2 separate regions of the Homo sapiens genome follow, and region 1 is linked to region 2. Evidence: fine-mapped expression QTL. A gene starts in region 2. The other region holds a variant in brackets. All regions are shown on one strand. Distances are from middle to middle.

Region 1 (5,384 bases), 25 kb after region 2:
ATTGACCCCAGTCTAATCCTTTCCACCTTCCCATCCTCCCTTATATCACTCCTCTTCTATATTTCCCTCAGCTATGCTGATTTTCTCTTATTTTCAGTGCCAAGCTACTTTCTGGTCTTTACATTTCTGTTCTCTCCCTCAAAGGTTTTCTACTCTCATGAATCCCCACTCTGTCTTGGTAATTTTTCTTTATCTTTTAGATCTCAATTTAAATGATACTATTTCTCTGACTAGACAGGGAGAGCCTTGTGTATATGTCCCTCCTAGTACAGTAGTGCCTTTTAGTTTTAGTTCTAAGTACACAATTGTAATTTTGTAGCCATTTGTGTAGTTCTTTTGACATTTCCCCTACTGGAATGTAAAGTCCCTGAGAGCAAGCAGTGTACTTTTTTGCCTACTTTTGTATCCCAGTTGTGTACATAGATGATAAATATTAGTGGGATGAATGCATATTATAAAATCATCTTTAATTTTTTGGGGGGCGGTGCCATTTATTTTTATAGATGTACCTGTGTGGTCTAAGCTGGAATCTGGTCACCTTCCATCCATGCAACAACTTGTTCAAATTCTTGACAATGAAATGAAGCTCAATGTGCATATGGATTCAATCCCACACCATCGATCATAGCACCACCTATCAGCACTGAAAACTCTTTTGTAAGTTGTTTAAAATATAGCTAATGTATAGGTTTCTGTTGATTCTTATGACTCAGCAAGTTAGTAAATATTACATATATTATCACTTGAGTTTCCAATTTAAGATTAAACAGAGGGATGTATTCTTCATTAAAATGTTGAAGTGTATGAAGAGAGTTCGGCCCTGCCAAAATAAAGTCAGGTTGTTAGTAATTTTATCTTCAAGGCTTAATGATTGGGTCTGTAACCTTATTTTCTTTACTCTAAATTCCTAATGGCCAGAGTTGATATATTATGCTAGAGGTGTGTATACTTCCTGTCCTTACCTTCAAGTAATTAGTTCCTGGGAGTATGCAAATTCTTTGAACATACTCAAGATAAAAAATTTATAGGCAAATGTGTGAACACAGAGAGGTATTAGTTAACTTTTTCTTTGTGATCAATGAATTCACTTTCTAAAGAGTTTTTATGAGTGATTTTTGCAATAAAATATTCTTTTTTCTGTATATCTTTCAGGCATTAAGGGATCATTGCAAGAGCAGCGTGACTGACATTATGAAGGCCTGTACTGAAGACAGCAAGCTGTTAGTACAGACCAGATGCTTTCTTGGCAGGCTCGTTGTACCTCTTGGAAAACCTCAATGCAAGATAGTGTTTCAGTGCTGGCATATTTTGGAATTCTGCACATTCATGGAGTGCAATAATACTGTATAGCTTTCCCCACCTCCCACAAAATCACCCAGTTAATGTGTGTGTGTGTTTTTTTTTTAAGGTAAACATTACTACTTGTAACTTTTTTTCTTAGTCATATTTGAAAAAGTAGAAAATTGAGTTACAATTTGATTTTTTTTCCAAAGATGTCTGTTAAATCTGTTGTGCTTTTATATGAATATTTGTTTTTTATAGTTTAAAATTGATCCTTTGGGAATCCAGTTGAAGTTCCCAAATACTTTATAAGAGTTTATCAGACATCTCTAATTTGGCCATGTCCAGTTTATACAGTTTACAAAATATAGCAGATGCAAGATTATGGGGGAAATCCTATATTCAGAGTACTCTATAAATTTTTGTGTATGTGTGTATGTGCGTGTGATTACCAGAGAACTACTAAAAAAACCAACTGCTTTTTAAATCCTATTGTGTAGTTAAAGTGTCATGCCTTGACCAATCTAATGAATTGATTAATTAACTGGGCCTTTATACTTAACTAAATAAAAAACTAAGCAGATATGAGTTAAATTTAAAAGTTTCAATTTATTGCTCAGTGTACCTGTTAACATTATATTTAACAATTGCTTAAATTTTTGTTTTTGATTTATGGATAATTTCTTAAGAGTACACACTTTAGATACACAAATAATCGTTCATTTACCATCTTTAGGATCATTGAAACTCATCTCACTAAAGAAAGTTCACTTGAACCTCTTTATAGCATTGATACTAGGTGAACAGAAATTACCTGACTAATAATTTGTCTAACATCATATATCAGAATTTTATTGTATATGATGAACAAAACTTAAAATTTTTTAAATTTAATT[T/C]TTAAATACTGTTTCAGAGTTCTAAAAAGGCAGTTTTTTAAAAAACTTAAGTTGATAAAAACTGTAAGAATAATTTAGCAGAAATAGAACCAGAATGTAGAAGAGTAGTCATGTAACAGCAGTAATAACATACTTCAGCTTCCATATAGGAATAGAAGTGGTAGAGCCAAAAGTGATTTAGGAAAAGTTATAAGGTACAGGTTGAGTATCCCTTTTCCAAAAATGCTTGGGACAAGAAGTATTTCAGATTTCATAATTTTTTTCAAAGTTTGGAATATTTGCATTATACTTACCAGTTGGGCATCCCAAATCTGAAATCTGAAATGTTCCATGAGCATTTCCTTTGAGTGTCATGTTGGCACTCAAAAAGGTTCAACATTGAGTCCACTTAACACTTAGGTGTTAGAAGACCTAACTTTCTGTAACAATTAACCTTATACTTTGTTTGTCATCGAATATTTGTTGAATGCATGTCAGGTAATGGTCTTGATTGTGATAGCTTCAAGGTGGAACATACTGTAATCTCCAGATGCTAGGAAGTTAGTCTAATAATTCACTGCAGAAAATTGATTAAGTGGCTGTCCTTTTAATTAAGAGTGTGGAGTCATAAACTTAAGTTCTTCATATAGTGACAAGAGTCCTTAGAGATTGTTATTCAAGTTCCTTAGAAATTGTTATTTAGGTATAATATCATCTTGTCTTTGACTAGAGCTTGAAACCTTGTTATCTGATTGTGTACCACTCCAAATTCCCTGCCTTCTGCAAGTTGAATGTCTTGCTGAATGTGTCTAGGGGTTCATCTTCAGTAATCGACATTCCACTAGTGCCATAGTTAACTTCATGACATGTAGACATTCAAAACTTGAGCCTTGGATGTTCCTGTGGACCTGACAGTTAAAAATATAAAGAACCTAGGATTCAATTCCAACTTTCTCTGTTTGCCTTGGGTTGAATAACTTATCTTTTGGAGAATAGCTTTAAGTGGCTTAGACACTGATAAAATTCAGCTGTGTTGTTGACGCTCATCTCTTTTGTCTTACGCTTAGCCATATTTAAATCTTGAATTTAATAGAGTCTAGTGAAAAAAATGAGTGGGAAGAATGAATATAAAAGTAATAATATAAGGAAAAAGGGAAAGTAAACTATTTAGAATGTAGTTTTGTTATATTCCCAGCATTTCAATATTTATTAGTTACTTGTAAATTACTGTGGCTGTGTAGTTTATAAATGTCTGTGCACTATATTAATTAGAAGACCATAGAACATGCCAGCAGGTTGGCTAATGCTATGGGGGTTTTTACCACAGTTGCCATTGTGGAAGAAATTATTTGGTACATTAATAAAAAAAGTTGGTAAAACATGGTTTTATACCTCAGTGTATAAGATGTGCAAGACAAATATGCTTATTTCCTTTTCTAGAATATAAGTGATATTATTTGCTTATGACACTAACACTATTAATGACAGGAGTCAATCAGCCTTTACAGCTATCAAAATATAATGAGATCCCAATGATGATTCTTTTTTACTTTGAATGTTAATTAGTTTGGGACTTTGATTGGCTGGCAAACATTTTATCATTGTCAGAATTTAATTTAGATTTCAAAAATAGCTTACAGGATTTTAAACATGGTGTGGTATTCTAAAGCCTTTTTTTTAAAAAAAGAGATCTTTTTGAGAGAAACAAATGAGGATTGTAAAGTTTGGGGACTTACCTCTGTAGCATTGTGAAAATAAACTTTGATTAAGCTGATTTGAAAGGAACTCCTACTTTGTGGAATTAAATCTACATTAGAGCACTTTATATGGTAACTATACTCACAAAATTTTGCATTATAAAAGTTATTATCATTACTTTTTAATGGCTTCTTAACCCGACCAGTGTTTATGACTCACTATCAGTCTGGCACTCAAGTCTTACCATACTCTTGGACCTTATGCTACTTCTCAAGCCTTACGGTCTACTTGTGCTTCAGTGCTGCTGAACTGTCAATAGCTCTGTGATGTATTCTGTGCTGGAGTGGAGCAAAGTGGAACAGTTTACATCACTGTCTGTCTTTACCCCCAACCTGCAGAATTCCTGAAACATTCACACTAACATCCTTAAATCTGGAGAGAAACAAAATGAATGTTTTTCCTCTATTGACTGGTATAGACAATTTAACAATCTCAGAAGAAAGAGCAAATATCAGATTTTTTTTTTTTAATTCAGCTGGCTCCTTTTCCCCTAGGCTTCAGAAAAGCAAATAGAAACAAATAGATCCACAGCCCAGGTGCAGTGGCTCATGGCTGGGAGACCAAGATGGGTGGATTGCTTGAGCCGAGGAATTCAAGACCAGCCTAGGCAACAAGGTGAAACTCCATCTCTACAAAAAAAAAATTAGCCAGGCATGGTAGCATGCACCTGTAGGCCCAGCTACTTGGGATGCTGAGACAGCAGGATCGCTTGAGCCCAGGAGGTTGAGGCTGCAGTGAGTCAAGATTGCACCACTGCAGGTGACAGGGCAAGACCCTGCCTCAAAAAAAAAAAAAAAAAAAAAAAACCCAGCTCCAAACTGTATCTTGAAGAAAAATATAAACTGGTTTCAGATACAGTAGAAAGCTGTAAAGTCATCCATTCTATAAGACTAACAGAATGTTTTCTTTTGCCAATGTTAAGCATGAGCAAAATAAAAAAGCATGCAGACAAACAGTAGTGGTTTTAAAATTTTAATGTGCTTAAAAATCACTGGGACAAATTTCTGGATCCCACTCCTAATGGTTCTGATTTAGTTGATCTGAAATGGTACCAGGTAATTTGCATTTCAAACAAGCTTCAAAATAATTCTAATACTGTTAGTCTGTGGTGTATACCAGGAGTCCCCAGTCCTTGGGCCATGGACTGGTGGTGGTCTGTGGCCTCTTAGAAAACCAGCCGCACACCAGCAGGTGAGTGTCAGGCAAGCAAGCATTACCTCCTGAGCTTTGCCTCCTGTCAGACCAGTGCATTAGATTCTCATAGGAGCCAGAATCCTATTGTGAACAGTGCCTGCGAGGGATCTAGGTTGTGCGCTCCTTATGAGAATCCTAATACCTGATGATCTGAGGTGGAACCTAATACCTGATGATCTGAGTTTCATCCCAAAACCATCCCCCCAACCCCCTGTCCGTTTATGGAAAATTTGTCTTCCACAAAAGCAGTCCCTGGTGCCAGAAAAGGTTGGGGAC
Region 2 (5,384 bases):
TTCATAACCACTTCCATGTAGGTTACAAGCTGCTAACCCGTCTCTTAGAACCTCTCATTTCCTTTCCATCGTGGAAATCTATCCTCAAGGAAATCACTTCTCAATGTTCCATCTGCTATTCTACTACCCTGCAGGGATTGTTCAGGCCCCCTCCCTTCCCTACACATCAAGCTCGGGGATTTGCCCCGCCGAGGACTGGCAAATTGACTTTACTCACATGCTTCAAGTCAGGAAACTAAAATACCTCTTGGTTTGGGTAGACATTTCACTGGGTGGGTAGAGGCCTTTCCCACAGGGTCTAAGAAGGCCACCGCGGTCATTTCTTCCCTTCTGTCAGACATAATTCCTCAGTTTGGCCTTCCCACCTCCTCTCTTTCCTTGAAAATCACTGAAGCCTCGACTTACTCACTGCTGAAAAAGGAGGACTTTGTATATTTTTAAATGAAGAGTGTTGTTTTTACCTAAATCAATCTGGCCTGGTATATGACAACATAAAAAAACTTAAGGATAGAGATAGAGCCCAAAAACTCTCCAACCAAGCAGACAACAACGTTGAACCCCCTTGGACACTCTCTAATTGGATGTCCTGGGTACTCCCAATTCTTAGTCCTTTAATACCTATTTTTCTCCTTCTTTTATTCGGACCTTGTGTCTTTCATTTAGTTTCTCAATTCATACAAAACTGCATCCAGGCCATCTCCAATAATTCTATACGACAAATGCTCCTTCTAACAACCCCACAATATCACCCCTTACCCCCAAATCTTTCTTCAGTTGAATCTCTCCCACTGTGGGTTCCCACGCCGCCCCTAATCTCGCTCGAAGCAGCCCTGAGAAACATCGCCTATTATCTCTCCATACCACCCCCAAAAATTTTCGCTGCCCCAACACTTTACCACTATTTTGTTTTATTTTTCTTATTAATATAAGAAGACAGGAATGTCAGGCCTCTGAGCCTAAGCTAAGCCATCATATCCCCAGTGACCTGCACATATACATCCAGATGGCCTGAAGCAACTGAAGATCCACAGAAGTGAAAATAGCCTTAACTGATAACATTCCACCATTGTGATTTGTTTCTGCCCCACCCTAACTGATCAATGTACTTTGTTGATCAGTAATCTCCCCCACCCTTAAGAAGGTTCTTTGTAATTCTCCCCACCCTTGAGAATGTACTTTGTGAGATCCAACCCCTGCCCCCAAAATATTGCTCTTAACTCCACCGCCTATCCCAAAACCTATAAGAACCAATGATAATCCCACCACCCTTTGCTGACTCCCTTTTCGGACTCGGCCCGCTTGCACCCAGGTGAAATAAACAGCTGTGTTGCTCACACAAAGCCTGTTTGGTAGTCTCTTCACACGGACATGTGAAACACTGTGGTCAATTTTTTTTCTTTTTAATAATAATTCTTTTTTAGAAATATGTGCTTAAATAATTGTAAGCCAGGCATAGTTGCCTGTGCCTGTATTCCTAACCACTTGGGAAGCTGAGGCAGGACTGCTTGAGCCCAGGGGTGTGAGGCTGCAGTAAGCTATGATCACGCCACTGAACTCCAGCCTGGGTGACAGTGAGACCGTGTTTAAAAATATATATATACAGATGAAATGATATGATGTCTGAGATTTGCTTCCAAATATGCCTAGGAAGGGAAGAAGTGTTTAGAGATATAGACAAATCAAGATTGTCAAAATGTATAGTAACTGTTAAAGCTTGCTAAGGTAGTTATTCTATTTTTGGATATGTTTGGAATTGTCCAAAGGTTTCCTAAAACTTATGTTTAATATTCTTTCAGGAGAAAGCAATATTGTAAGATCAAAGAAAAGGCCATAACAGCGCACCCAAAAAATTTCAGCATTACCATTCTGAGGGTCAGGAGTCTCCTCCCTTCCATCCGCCAACACTTGAATCAGGACTATAAAGTAGGTGTTTCCAAGTCTCAGGCAGGTAAATGGATAAATTGCAAAACTGGATGCAGAACTCACATCTGCCTCATACATAGGCCCTGTGACACCCCACCAGCTCCTTTGCTCCCTTTCTGCCTTTCTCATGCCGTCCCAGAGTCTTGCACACTACCAAGATGGTGGTGAGTCAGGACAGTGAAACAGGTCGGCTCTTCACTCCAGGAGTGTGCGCGGGCGCCGGGCCGCGCAGGCGCATTACTGCTCCCCTCCCCCGACCTTGGCTGATCGCGCCTGCGCAGTGGGGAGCAGCTCGCTCCTGGGCTTTGGGCTGGCTGCAGTCTGTCTGAGGGCGGCCGAAGTGGCTGGCTCATTTAAGATGAGGCTTCTGCTGCTTCTCCTAGTGGCGGCGTCTGCGATGGTCCGGAGCGAGGCCTCGGCCAATCTGGGCGGCGTGCCCAGCAAGAGATTAAAGATGCAGTACGCCACGGGGCCGCTGCTCAAGTTCCAGATTTGGTGAGTATGTGCACTGGGCCCCGGCCACCCCGCCGCGCCTCTGCTCGGCGCCATTGGCTACGCGAGGCCCCGGCTTCGCGGCCTAAATGGCCGCATCTTCGCTGGCCTCGTAGAACTGTGCCGGCGCCCTTCCACAGCCAGCCTTCTCGCGGCCCCTTAGCGCGGTCAGGCCGCCCTCCTTTTCCAGGTATAACTGCTCACTTGTTTTTTGCCTCCTAGAACAGTGGGAATGGGGAAGGAGGGCGCGAGAAGGTTAAACGCTGAAAGGCGAAGACTGGGGGACACCTGTTAGTACGGAGGACTGGTTGGCGGCGTCACGCCATAGCCACCCCGGCTGCCTGCGGAGATGGGGATGAGTAGGCGCCGCGTCGGCGGAGGAGCGCCAACCGTTTGTCAGTTCACTTTTTCTGCCCTCTTTTCCGGGGTAATGCCGGGCGGCTTCGCTGCCTGGCTAGATGAAGGTTAATTCGGGTCATTGGAGAGGATCCGGGAGTGACAGACGCCGTTTTTCTCCTGAACTTGCTGGGGGGACTGTTGAGTTTGCGAATGGGGCGTCTGACAGCTGGAGGGGGTGGAAGGAAGGTCTGGGGATGCTGGTTCTGTTTGCCATTTCCAAAGTGTCAGAAAAGGAGCACGTTGTTCTTCTAAACATTGACAGTTCGCTCGCATTCCCTCCTCACCTGCCTCCCAGGAGTTGCCTGCTCTGGCATCTCTTTCTACCTTTCAGTTGTCTTGTGTATCCAGCAGATCTCGGCAGTTTTCGACAGTGTTCTTTAAATGATTTTGTTTTTAACCTAATCGTTAGAAGCAGGGCAATGATGCATTTTATACGGTAAGTGGGGTTGCGGGTGGGGATTGAAAGGCTCTGAAGATGGGGGAAAAAACACCAAAATTGTAAAATTATAGAAATGAGAATCTTACACCTCCAAAGATGACATTTTCTCAGGATAAACCGACCATCCCAGAATAGCCAGATTAGTAAATCATCAGAGTCCGGATACATTGGAATGTTGGTGTTGGACATCATTCATTTAAAACCTTCTTTTAAGAACTTCATGTATTAGTATATTAAAGTTTTGATTTTCTACTTCTCCAACTAGCTTTTTACTTACTCACTGAAGACCAAGCAAACCTTTAAAATAATTTTTAAAAATCGGCTTAAGGTGATGTTTGAGTTAGAAAATAAGATGGTGAGACTTTATTTTTTTGAGTGAAAACTAAAACATTGCAATTTCTCCTGATTAAAAACAAACAAGGCCGGGCTCGCTGGCTCACGCCTGTAATCCCAGCACTTTGGAGGCCGAGGCTAGCGGATCACCTGAGGTCGGGAGTTCGAGACCAGCCTGACCAACATGGAGAAACCCCCATCTCTACTAAAAATACAAAAATTAGCCTGGCGTGGTGGCGCATGCCTGTAATCCCAACTACTTGGGAGGCTGAGGCAGGAGAATCGCTTGAACCCGGGAAGCGGAGGTTGCGGTGAGCCGAGAACGCGCCATTGCACTCCAGCCTGGGCAACAAGAGCGAAACTCCGTCTCAAAAAAAAAAAAAAAAACCTCCCTGTACAATGTACTATGTTTCTGGAATATATCATCTTTCATGTAATACTGCAAATGGGAGAATGGTTTATCCATTAACTTTTTTCCTTAATTTTTAAATTAGAAGGTGGTAATCATCTTACTAACCTAAAGATTGTTAAGGGTTGTGATACTTACGGATTTAAGTGTTAAAAAATTGCAGTTTTCAAATTATTTAATTTTTCTGTATCCTACTTTTATCTCTTGGTTGTATTTTTGCTTTTCCAAAATACCCCTTTTACGTTTGCTTTTTTTGGAACACTTGTCACAATAATTTACCAGGTGTATCTTCCACCAAGGCTATTCATAGCAAGGTTTTCAAAATGTGTAAACAAACGTAGGGAAGGGCATTCAGTCCTTCAAATTAAACTTAAAAAAAAAGTAGTAAGTACTTCAGTTAAACTTTTGATACTTTGTTTTTCTTTGTTTTTAAGTACAGACCTGTCCCAAAAGTCTAATAATTTTCTTTTACAGTCACTCTGAGCATGTTATATAACAAAAATGCTTCCATTTAAAAAATTATTTTTATTTTTATTTTTCTGACACTATCCACCGGAGATCATTTTTTGTTTAATCTGTAGATGGGAAATAACGTTATTAATAAGACCCACCAAATACAGATCAACTTAGCTTGTTGTTTGTTGCTTTTCCCCCCAGAGATTAATCTGTTTATGGTAAAGTGAATATTGGGTTTCTGGTTTTGCTAGAATCTTGTGGACATTAATTTGCAAGTTTGTTTGAGAAAGGACAGGAAGCTAATACGTTTGAGGATAAACATGAGAATTTTAAAATTCCATTTGAAGTCAGTATTATAAAATGCAGCTTTTCATTAATTACCACTGCTAACAATCAAAAGAGAACTATTTTACCTTCATTTCCACTGACTTTTTCCCCTTATAGTGATCATGAGTATTTTATCAAAAATAACTATACCTCAATATATCACCTGGTAATTGTACCACTTTTGCAATTGTTAGTCAACACAATAGCAACATAGTGCTGAGAGATCAAGCTTGTAGAGTAGCTTACGACAGAGTTTCCTATTCTCGTTTTTTTTTTTCCTTTCTTTCTTCCTTTTTTTTTTTTTTTGCTGAGACAGAGTCCCGCTGTGTCACCCAGTTTGGAGTGCAATGGCATGATCACGGAGCCTTGACTTCCTGAGTTCCGATAATCCTCCCACCACAGCCTCCCAAGTAGCTGGGACTGCAGACGCGCACCACCACGCCTGGCTAATTTTCATATTTTTTGTAGAGACCTGGTCTTGCCTTGTTGCCCAGGCTGTGTGTAATACCTGCTGTATGCCAGGAATTAAGCATGCTAAAGATGTGACCATCTCAAGAAGTCTACCAGACTGGCACAGTATTACTTGTGTATCTGAGTCTGTGGTTT

What was found.
Region 1: its variant is fine-mapped to the expression of SELENOT in whole blood (INTERVAL, PIP 0.95).

What each region holds. Positions count from the first base shown.
Region 1 is chr3:150,626,507-150,631,890 of GRCh38, forward strand. SELENOT (selenoprotein T) reads left to right here. Exons shown (of 6, transcript NM_016275.5): 5 at 504-657; 6 at 1,153-3,930. The coding sequence ends at 628. Among named protein-coding and RNA genes, the nearest start is that of SELENOT, 26 kb to the left of the region's middle. The variant T/C (reference allele first, on the strand shown) is at 2,178.
Region 2 is chr3:150,601,082-150,606,465 of GRCh38, forward strand. SELENOT (selenoprotein T) reads left to right here and starts at 2,240. Exons shown (of 6, transcript NM_016275.5): 1 at 2,240-2,418. The coding sequence starts at 2,282. LOC124900547 (a long non-coding RNA gene) reads right to left here and starts at 2,102. Exons shown (of 2, transcript XR_007096128.1): 1 at 1,863-2,102. RefSeq lists enhancers at 2,029-2,108, 2,229-2,378, 2,351-3,124, 2,399-2,698.